2 separate regions of the Homo sapiens genome follow, and region 2 is linked to region 1. A link means that fine-mapping ties the variant in region 1 to the expression of a gene that starts in the linked region. Tissue or cell type: cerebellar hemisphere. Region 1 holds a variant in brackets; the other region holds the start of a gene. All regions are shown on one strand. Distances are from middle to middle.

Region 1 (5,226 bases):
CTAACTATCAAATGGGTAAAGGATCTGAATAGTTTTTCCAAAAAATACATACAGATGGCCAATAATCACATGAAAAGATGCTCAACATCATTAACCTTCAGGGAAATCTAAATCAAAACCACAAAGAGATGCTACTTCCTACTCATTAGAATGGCTACAATCAAAAAGACAAACAATAACAAATGCTGGACTAGATGTGGACAAACTGGAACCATTACATACTACTGATGGGAATGTAAAATAGTATAGTGGCTTTGAAAAGCAGCCTGGCAGTTTCTTAACAGTGAAATATAAGTTACCATGTAACCCAGCAATCCCACTCTTAGGTATGTACCCAAGAGAAATAAAAACATGAGCCCACACAAAAATGTGTACACAAATATTGATAGCAGCATAATTTGTAATAGCCAAAAACTGGAAACAATCTAATGTCCAGCAACTGATGAATGAATAAACACAATGTGGTATATCCATACAATGGAATATTATTCAGCCATGAAAAAGAATGAAGTATGACATATGCCACAAACAAATGAACTCTGAAAACATTACGCTAAGTGACAGAAGCCAGTCACAAAGGACTGGCTCCATTTCATATAAATGATTCCACTTATACACAATGTCCAGAATAGGCAAATCTAGAGAGAAAGAAAGTAGATTTCTGGTTGCCTTTGGCTGGTGGAAATAGGGGAAGGGGTACGACAGCTAAGAAGTATGGTGGTTCTTTTTGAGGTAATGAAATGTTCTAAAATTGACTCTGGCAATAGATGCACAACTCTGAAAATATACTCAAACCCACTGAATTGTATACATTAAAAGGGTTAATTGCATGGCATCTGAACTATATCTCAACGAATCTGTTTAAAGTAATCACAGCCTGTGAGAGGCATTCTGAAGGAGGCAAACAGCATTATACCTGGTATAGGTGGAGGGAAGGCCCTTTTGAGGAGGTACCATTTAGCTGAGACCTGCAAGCTAAGAAGGGGCTAAGCACATGAAGGGAGAGTGAAGAGTGTCCCTGGCAGAAGAACCAGCATGTGTGGGGAAAGGCATGGTGAGTTCCAGAAACCAACCAGAGGCCACACGTTTGGGAAGCAACAGATGAAAGGCCAGGCCATGCGGAGCCCTGCTGCTCATCAGGAGTTTGGACTTGGTTCCAAGTACAGAGGGAAGGCACTGGAGGGTTCTGAGCAGGGGAGTCATACCATCTGATTCACATTTTTAAGAATATTTTTAGTTGTGATGTAAGAATAGATCAGACGGGGCCTGGGGTGGGGAACGCGCAACAATGAGCAGAAAAGGTTTCTTCCTCACCTCTCCCAAAACATTCATGGAAATGGAGTCTGAAGAGGTGTGGAGCACAGATCAGATAAACTAAAAGTATCCTTAAGGAACTGGAGCACACAGTGACTCCAGCGCAGATGCCAAATGCAGACAATGGGCTGGCAAGGCTGGGAAGGAGCTGGCCACGAACACTCCGAGGGAACCAGAGGTGATTACCCATGCACTTGGGGAATTTGGAGAAGCAGGACAAAGAAAGCACTACAAAGCCAGTTGCTTCCTTGAAATTTTGTCAAAACATCCATGTGGAAGCCAAGGCCTACACTATTCTAAGTTTGTTCTTTCCAAGCTTAAAAAAGTGAAACAAGCAAAAGCTAGAGTCAAAACAAATGTTTGAGGCAGATGAACCATGTAACTGCTAATGCAAAATTCCTCTCCCAAGTTAGGTAGTGAAATTTGGAGGCCAGGTATGGATGGCTCACACCTGTAATCCCGGCATTTTGGGAGGCCAAGGCAGGAGGTTCACTTGAGGCCAGGAGTTCAAGGCCAGCCTAGACAACATAGTAAGACCCTGTCTCAACAAAAATAAAAATTAGCCAGAGGTGGTGGCACACACCTGTGGTCCCAGCTACTTGGGAGTTGAGGTGGGAAGATCACAGGCCCAGGAATTGAAGGTTGCAGTGAGATATGATTGCACCACTGCACTCCAGCCTGGGTGCCACAGTGAGATTTTTTCTTAAAAAAAAAAAAAAAAAAAAAAAAAGGCAAGAAAAGAAATTTGATTGAAGTGCACATGAAATAACCCTGTGCCAATCACTGGCAGTTGCAGACTGGCTGGCATCAGAAGCAATTATGTGATCAAATGGAGACGGCGAGGTCTCCTCCCAAAGAGTCCACTTGGCCCTGAGGAAAAAAGTGCTTTGAAAGATTTAAAATAAGTAAAAATAATCTTACATTTTAAAAAACCAATACAAATTCAAAAGCACTTGAATAAGCTGTCTCGTTCCTAACGTGTCCCTCTGTAGTGCGGTGAATCAACCCTGCTTAGGACTAATCTTTACATTTTTCCAAAGTGAATAAAGACAAAAACACTCCCCTAAATCCTGGTGATTGTCCTCTTCAGGACCACAGGATATGAAATTAAGAAGCTAAATAAACAAATAAATCTAAGTCAACCAGTCGTAACAGAAAGCCCAAAGTACAAAGACTAGCAAGCCATCCCTTCTGAAGCCTAAGAAGTAATTAAAGTATTTGATGCTCACTCAGGAAGTTTTTCCTTCTGTTAAATAGTCACAAACGAATTATTTTCAGATTTTTAAAAATTAGTTTTTCTTCAATTAAAAAAAATTTCCTCGGAGGCTGCAAATTCTTAGTCAACAAACTAAGAATTCAAGTTGAATTCCATCTAATGAATCAAGTTATTTTTATTTTCTATCACTCTTTTCCTTTGCCTTATAGGCTGACGGAAAACTCAACAAGTGGGGACCTCCCCTGAAATGATAGGAAAGAATTTAACCTCATGGCATAAAAACAACTCATGAATGGTGTTTGGATGAAAAGGTTATGC[G/A]GGAGTCAAATGTTTGAAGGGGCTCAGGTACTTACTAAAATCCTGGCCAGAAATCTTCATAGAAATGTACTCATGGTGAAGAGTTCCTTCTCACCTGCAAACCCCCTTCTACTCTGCTCATTCAAAACTGGTTTGCAACTTGAAGCTGTCAAGGTCTTGCTACTCAAAGTGTGGTCCCTGGACATGCTCACTGTTAGAAATGCAGATTCTCAGGCCCCACCCTAGACCTGATGAGTTAGAAGCTAACCTCTGCGAACATGGACATTTGAGAAGCACTGCTCCATGTCACTGAGCCCTCCCTGGAGGAAACATGATATTCACCCCACGAAGACCACCTTCCTCATGATGCCCTCTGCCCTCCAGAAAAATAACATATACACTGCCCATGTTATTTGAGAGATATTTCCTGTGTGAGTATACACTTTTCTGGAACTGAAGACCTGTCTATTCACACGGCCCTTATCTGAGCAGACTTTGGGACAAGCATTGGGGTGCAATTAGTTTGTATGGGCAGTGATCTCAGGGAGCTCCAGGAGAGGGTAGTGAAGTGTGTCATCAACGGGTGAGAAAGCTGGGGCATCTATCCATCTCACCGGTCTCTCCTTGGTAGAAAACTGTACTGGGGACGTTAACTATCCTGCACTTCCAGCCCTCCTGACTCGGGTGCAGCACACTCCTGTAGCCAGAGAAAGTTCCTAACCAGAGAAACAGTTCGCCTATGGCGAACTGTCATAGGCGGCCTCCAGGGTGGGTGGAGGGGACATGGAGGGTGTTGACAGCATCTCTCCCACATCCTCTCCCTCTGCACAAGCAACTGGGCTGGTGGAGCTGTGGACTGAGAACAGAGGCCAGGGGCAGCTACTGCTGAACTTCCTTTGGCTGAAGATGAAGGGATGGGGCCTGAGAGGACCTCTTCCTAGTCTAGCACCTTCAGAGTGTATCTCCACAGATCAACCTGTCAGCTCATGGAGCCCTGTCTCAGGGGGCAGCAGCTTACTAATCTCTTCCCTCGGGTTGGCACATCCACTTTGCTACTCCTGGGTACATCTCAGGACTCTTCTTAAAGAACTGGTATCCACTTCTAGGATGATCCTTCCTCCCTTTCTCTTTGTTGCTTCAACAGGTCAGCTCCAATCTCCTCTTACCTAGACCAGCACAAAACGGCCTCCTGGTGGATGCCTTGCACACACCTCTCTCCCCTGATATGTTCTGCAAACTGCCACAGATGAATCCCAATATGACACTTTGTTTTTGCTAAAAAGCCTTCAAAGGTTGTTAACAAGCAACATTCTTCATTGGTTCTTAACTGGGGGTGTGCACTGGAACCACCTGGGAGCCAGAGATGCCACACCCAGCTGTGCAGGCTGATCACTGCATAGAAGACCTGGCTGCTCTCACCAAGCCCTTCACCTTGGCATGAGTCTCTCCAATTTGCATAACAGTGCTGGAAAGGTGACGATGACAATCCTATGAAAAGCTTTGTAAAAAAGACCCAGATGCAGGCCCCTCTGTGTGGCCGCAGAATTAATGCATGTGGCGTCGGCATGCATTTGCTGAAAGCTCCCCAGGTGGTTCTGATGGACAATCAAGTTAAAAACCCTCAAAAGTGAAACTGCATTGAAATTCTCTGGTGGGCTTGTTAAAGATGCAGATTGCAGGCCCCAGCCTCCAGAGTGGGATTCTTTACAGCAGAAGCAGAGTCAGGAAACCTGGATCTTGAATCATCTGAGGCAAGTGTTCTACACTAGCCTTTGAAACACTGGTCCCAAGAGCTAATGTAGCCACTGCCATTTTTGAAGTTAAGAGATTGAGACCTAGAGTATGTGAGAAAAAAAATGCCTTCTCTGGGATTCTTATGCTGGTGAGGACTGAGGAACCCTGGTATTATGGTCCTCTCTGTCTTTGAGTCAGTTGTCTGGAGCCTCCTATGTCATGTGCCTCTGGGGCAGGGACTCAGAGAAATGAACTCTGCAGACCATGGCTGGCTCCAACATGGGTGCCTACCTGCTGTGCTCCCAGAGGAAGCCCATCTACTCGTTCAACAAGTGTTTCTTATTTTGTCTCAAATGGGAAACAGCTTCTACACAATAATTCTCATGTGTGAGACACGTATGTTTTCTGTTACATCTTACATTCCTTTGTTCATGCTCTCATTTAATAATTACTGAGTAGCCTCAGTGTCCTTTGTTGGGCCATATGCCTTTGTAACACAGTTCCTGCTGTCTCCAAGGAGAAGTTCCCAGCCTAGGAGGAAGAAGAAGAACTGGTTCAAGGAAAGACACTTATCATCTCACATGATGAATGCATGGGGGTGCTGTTGCACCAGGGGCTGAAACTGGCCTCCCTTTACCAGAGAAGCATTGGCTGTCCCCATTCCC
Region 2 (5,226 bases), 270 kb before region 1:
GAAGACTCAGATTCTGCAGCAAGTGACAGGCTCAGCTGATATGAGTGGGTTGGGCAGATTAGGCATAAACACTTGACAATTTTTTTTTCCAGTTTTTTCGAGACAGGGTCTTGCTCTGCCACCCTAGCCTGCAGTGCATGATTCGAACACACTTCACTGCAACCTCCACCTTCTGGGTTCAAGTGATCTTCCCGCTTCAGCTGACAAATTCTTGAAACAGAGCTGAACTCTGTATAAACACAGGCTCTGCAAACAGCCACAGGCTCTGCAAATAGCGATTTAGCTTGCTCGAGTCTGTGCTCTGTGGTTCTGCGCGTGCAGAGAGGGAGAGAATGAGAGGGCAGTGAATGACAGTGACATGGAATGAGAAGTACCTGGGGGAAGGAAGGGACCCTCACTTCTGTCGATTTTGTTATGTCTTGGCACTTCATATTCAATTACCTGAGGCTTCCCTGCACCACTCCTTCAGAAACCTGTGTGTGAGGTTTGGTCCAAAAGTCACTTCTTTCTGAATCTCTCACTCAGGGTGACCCTGGTGTGTTAGTCCTTCCCTCCTCCCCCTCCACTCCCACTGTGTCTTATCAATAGCAGGAACACCCTTGGCTCCAGGCAGAACAAGGTGAGGGGACAGAGTTACAGAATCAGGTGTGGCACAATAGGTGTCATAGAGTGGCTCACATTCCTTACACCTTTGTCAGGGCCCCTGGTTTGGCCCTGGTGAGTTCACAGTACACTGTGGCAACACCCAACATGTAGCCAAAGAAATGTGGGAGCGGAGGAGGCTGTGGGGCAGGGGAGCAGGGGCAGAGTGGGCTGTCCTTCTAGGGGGTTAGAGCTGGGTCCGTCACAGCTCACAGCTCCTCCCGACACCCTATGGAAACCATAGGATGGTTGTTGGCTATGGTCTCCCTCACCAGAGCAGCAGATTCCTGAAGGCAGGGGTTTGTCTTGTTGTTTACTGTGGGATCCCAGCTGCCCGGCCCCCAGCAGGTACTCAGTAAGTACTTGTTGAATGAGTGAAGTGTGCTGCCCTGCGACTGGACTGAGTGAAAATGAATAGAGAAGGGAGCCGTCCGTGCACCCTAATTGCCCCAAGAACTGTTGCCACAGTTGATGGCCTGTTGGTGTGACAATGACATGAGTGACAGGCAGACATAGTGGCCATGAAAAGGTGATCTCAAGCAACAGAAAACGTGAGGACATTGGGTGACAAGCAGGATGTCCACCAGTGGTGGCCCCGTAGAAGGACACTGAGTAATAGGCAGAAATAGTGACCAGTGACAGTTACCAGAGGCCCAGGCAGGCAGTGACCAGAGGTGCAGACAGAAACTGTGAGCTGTAGCTCATGGAAGAGTACAACATGGTGACAGAGTGCCAGAAAGACTACTGGATGGCCTCAGAACAGTGTCAACCAGGGCACATGGGGGACTGGAAAGTCAAACTGGCAGCCAAAAAGTTGGGACTCGGCTGGTGTCACTGGGAGAGGCAGCATCGCCCCCAGGGGTCCGGGAGCCCGTCTGATATCCAGCCCCAGCCCGTAGAGCCAAGCCCTCAGCTGCCAGGGCTGAGGTCGCACTCGCATGGCACCTGTGTTCATTCTCTTTCACCTGGACTCCAGGGAGGAATGGGTGCTCAAAGATTGGGGGCCTCCTCCCTCCCCACAGTGCCACCTCCAGCCTCCCAAGCCCTCCTGCCCTCTTTCCTCAGGGGAACCCCCCACAGTGCCCCCTCCAGCCTCCCAAACCCTCCTGCCCTCTTTCCTCTGGGGAACTCCCTTTCACCACCTTCCCAAGTGGGAACCCTCCTATCCCTGGTCCTCTCCCTTCTCCTAGAAGCCCTCCTTCTCTTCCCTGGGGGTGCACTTCCTCCACTCAGGGCCCCTTTCTCTTCCGGATGCCCAATTCCTTCCCTGGTTTCCCTTTCTCTCCCCATGCCCCACGCCTCCGCTTTTCCAGGGTTTCCCTCTGTCCCCACTGGGTGCCCCTGCCTCCCCCTGGTTCTTCTTTCTCCCCTCTGATTTCCCCTCTCCCCTGGGATCCTTCCCTTTTTCTCCCATTTTTCCTCCCCAGGCACCTCCTCCTTTCCTGGTTCCCTGTCTTCCCCTACACCCCTCCCTCTCTCCCTCCCCACCCTCCTCCCCAGGTCTTTCCTTCTCTTCCCCAGGCTCCCCTCTCTTTCCCGGGGCACTCCCTACCCGCTTCACACACCCCCTCTTCTCTCCCCCTGCCCCTCGTGTCCCTGGGTGCCTCCTCTCTCCTCGCTTTCTCCCTCCTCCAGTGCCTCTTTCTCTCCCTACAGGAGCCCTTCCTTCTTTTGTGGGTACCTTTGAAGGGAGCCCGAGATTACCTTGCTCAGTTTCCATGGAGCAGGGAGTGGTGCCGCCCTCTAGAGTGAGGGGAAAGGAGGATGGGGCCAGGGTTGGGGGCAGGCACACTGAATTTGTGGGCCACGGACTTCCCTGCCCATCTACAAAATCTGCCACTTTCTTCCCCTTGGGCTGCCGGCCACAGCTGCCCTGCCCCATCAGTGTTTTCACCTGCTGGGCTGCTGCCGCCTCCCAATTCTGCCGCGGAGGCTCTGTGGCCCTGAGCCCTGGGACCCTATGCTCTATGCCCTTGACTTGAATAGCCCACTCTGCCCCACTGGTTCCCTGGAAACCCCCGCCCCCCAACTCTCTGCCCAGGCCTACCTGCTGGAAACTGCTCCCGCGCCTTCGCCCTGCCTGTGGGCAGTGCTAGGCCTGGCACGGGGCCAGTCTCTGCCTCCCTACTCCTGGTCCCCACCACTGTAACTCAATCCTAGCTCCTGCCCTGCAGGACACACCCCACCACACAGTGCTCAGCGGGCTAGGCATTCACTTAGTCAGCCAGTCAACAAATATCGAGCAAGCCGTCGGGACCAGCGCCCTCCCCAGGGCTATGGTTAAGTCTCCCAGGTCTCACTGCCTGGGTACCAGTGGCCAGAGAGAGCAGGGGATGGAGGCCTGGACTGGGCTAAGAGGTGGGGTGTGGAAGATACTGGGATTTCCTTCTCTGGAGTACTAGATGGGCCCCTGATCCCTCACCCGGAGTGGTGGGCTCCGCCTGGACCAAGAGGGCCAGGCCACTCCAGCAAACTTTAGGAGGAAGTAGGACCAAGGCTGGGGGCTGTGGGGTCAGGCTCTGTGAGACCCAGCTCACTTCAGGAGGGGAAGGTGGTCAGGGCTCCCTCTAGATATTTCTGCTGTCCCTACCCAAATGTGAGCTCACTGCCTGGCACAGCCCTCCTCAGGGAACCCTGATACCCATCATGGGAGAGGCCAGTCCAGCTCTTGCAGCGAAGACACCTCTCCCTCACCTCAGCTGCCACTCCACTGCCACTCTCTCTCTCTCACTGTGGGGTGGAGGGGCTGCAAACAGAGCCTTCCAGAAACTCCAGGGGCACAACCTCCTCTTGGCGGCTTAGGGCCTCAGTCCCAGCCAAGGCCCAGCCAGCGTGGGCCATCCCATCAAAGCCACGCTGCTAAAGCCTGCCCACTGCCCAAGACCCTCTCCCTGTGTTCAGTCTTCACCCCACAAAGGTCTCTGTTACAGGGGTCTGGGGACTTGGGGACTCGGGGGCAGTCTGTGTCCAGCAAGACCTACAGCTAGTGTGTGACTGTGTTTAACAGACACAATGCAGGGTCCCTGTGTGTGAAGGGATGCCTGTGTCACAGGCATTTGGCTCGTCCCCATGTGTGCCATTGCCTGTCCGACCTCATGTGTGTGCCTGTATCCTGGCATGTCTGTCTGATCCCCACTTGGGACAGGGACCCTGTCTGTGACAGTGGCAGTGTGTCCACTGTACCTGTGCATACCCGTTTCCCTGTCCCTTTTTGTCTCTGTGCCCAGGAAGACTCTGTGTCCTCACTTCTTCCCACCGACTCTTCCCCCATCTCCCCTCAGCCCACCCGCTCTGTTTGTTCTTGAATTCCCTGGCAATGGCTCTTTCCTAAGTCACCAATGCCCGCTGTCAACCAAGCGGCAGTCAGTTCAGTCACCATTGTTCCTTCCCCTCTCACTCCACCTGTCTCCTTCAGGCCTCTAAATGGCAGCAGGAGCAGAGCTTGGGCCTTCACTCCTGTTTGTTTTCCAGTTTCCTTCCCAGTTCCAGTCTGAAGGCTGCAAATAGCATGGAAACGCCAGTGTCTCCCTGACCCAACTCCCCCGAACCTTGCCCCGGCCTAAGTCTCCATCTTCCGTCTGTCACATCTCTCCCAGCACGTTTGGTCTCACATTTAACATCGCCTCAGGCCCCTCCCAGATCTACCCTCTCTGAGCCCCAGGAACACGTTCAGTGTGAACATCCAGAGGGTGCTTAGGCCCCAAACCTGGAGTTGCCCTGATTTCTCTCTCCCGCAAGCCACTGGCCCGTCGGCAGCTGGTTCATGGTGGATCCTGGGCCTGGCCCTCCCTCTCACGCCTCCTGCCTGCTCCGGAGCCAGCCTCCCTCTGTGTCTCTGGGTCTGCCTGGCCGCTACGACCATCCTACCACAGTAGCCAGAGGGATCTTTTTTCCTAAGATTTAAAAAAATTGTGGTAAAATATAAAAAATCTTTTTTTCACAAGATTTAAAAAATTGTAGTAAAATATACTTAAAATTTACCATTGTATCCCCTTTTTATTTATGTATTTATTTGAGACAGAGTTTTGCTCTTGTTGCCGAGGCTGGAGTGCAATGGCATGATCTTGGCTCACTGCAGCCTCCGCCTCCCGGGTTCAAGTGATTCTCCTGCCTCAGTCCCCTGAGTAGCTGGGATTACAGGCATGCACCACCACACCCGGCTAATTTTGTATTTTTGGTAGAGACGGGGTTTCACTATGTTGGTCAGGCTGGTTGCGAACTCCTGACCTCCAGCGATCCACCGGCCTCAGCCTCCCAAAGTGTTGGGATTACAGGCGTAAGCCACCACGCCCGGCCTGTATCCACTTTTAAGTATACGGTTCTGTGGTGTTAAGGACACTCATATTGTTGTGCAACCACTGCCACCATTTCCAGAACTCTTTCATCTTACAAAACGGAAACTCTGCAACTCTGCACCCATTAAACATAGACTCCCCATTGCCCCCAGCCCCTTGCAACCACCATTCTATTTTCTATGATTTTGACTAACTAGAGGGAAAATTCAACCTCAGAATTTAACCATAAACCCGCTCACATCACCCCCCTCCCCAAACCTTCCAGTGGCTTCCACTAAAACTGGGATGA

Evidence for each region. PIP is the estimated chance that this variant, and not a neighbour inherited with it, causes the effect. A credible set is the group of variants that fine-mapping cannot tell apart.
Region 2: VILL starts here. The variant in region 1 is the best candidate, but not a certain one, in a credible set for the expression of VILL in cerebellar hemisphere (GTEx, PIP 0.81).

What each region holds. Positions count from the first base shown.
Region 1 is chr3:37,717,933-37,723,158 of GRCh38, reverse strand. All of the region lies in intron 18 of ITGA9 (integrin subunit alpha 9), which reads right to left. Among named protein-coding and RNA genes, the nearest start is that of ITGA9-AS1, 140 kb to the left of the region's middle. The variant G/A (reference allele first, on the strand shown) is at 2,849.
Region 2 is chr3:37,988,293-37,993,518 of GRCh38, reverse strand. VILL (villin like) reads right to left here and starts at 2,733. Exons shown (of 20, transcript NM_015873.4): 1 at 2,690-2,733. RefSeq lists an enhancer at 427-721.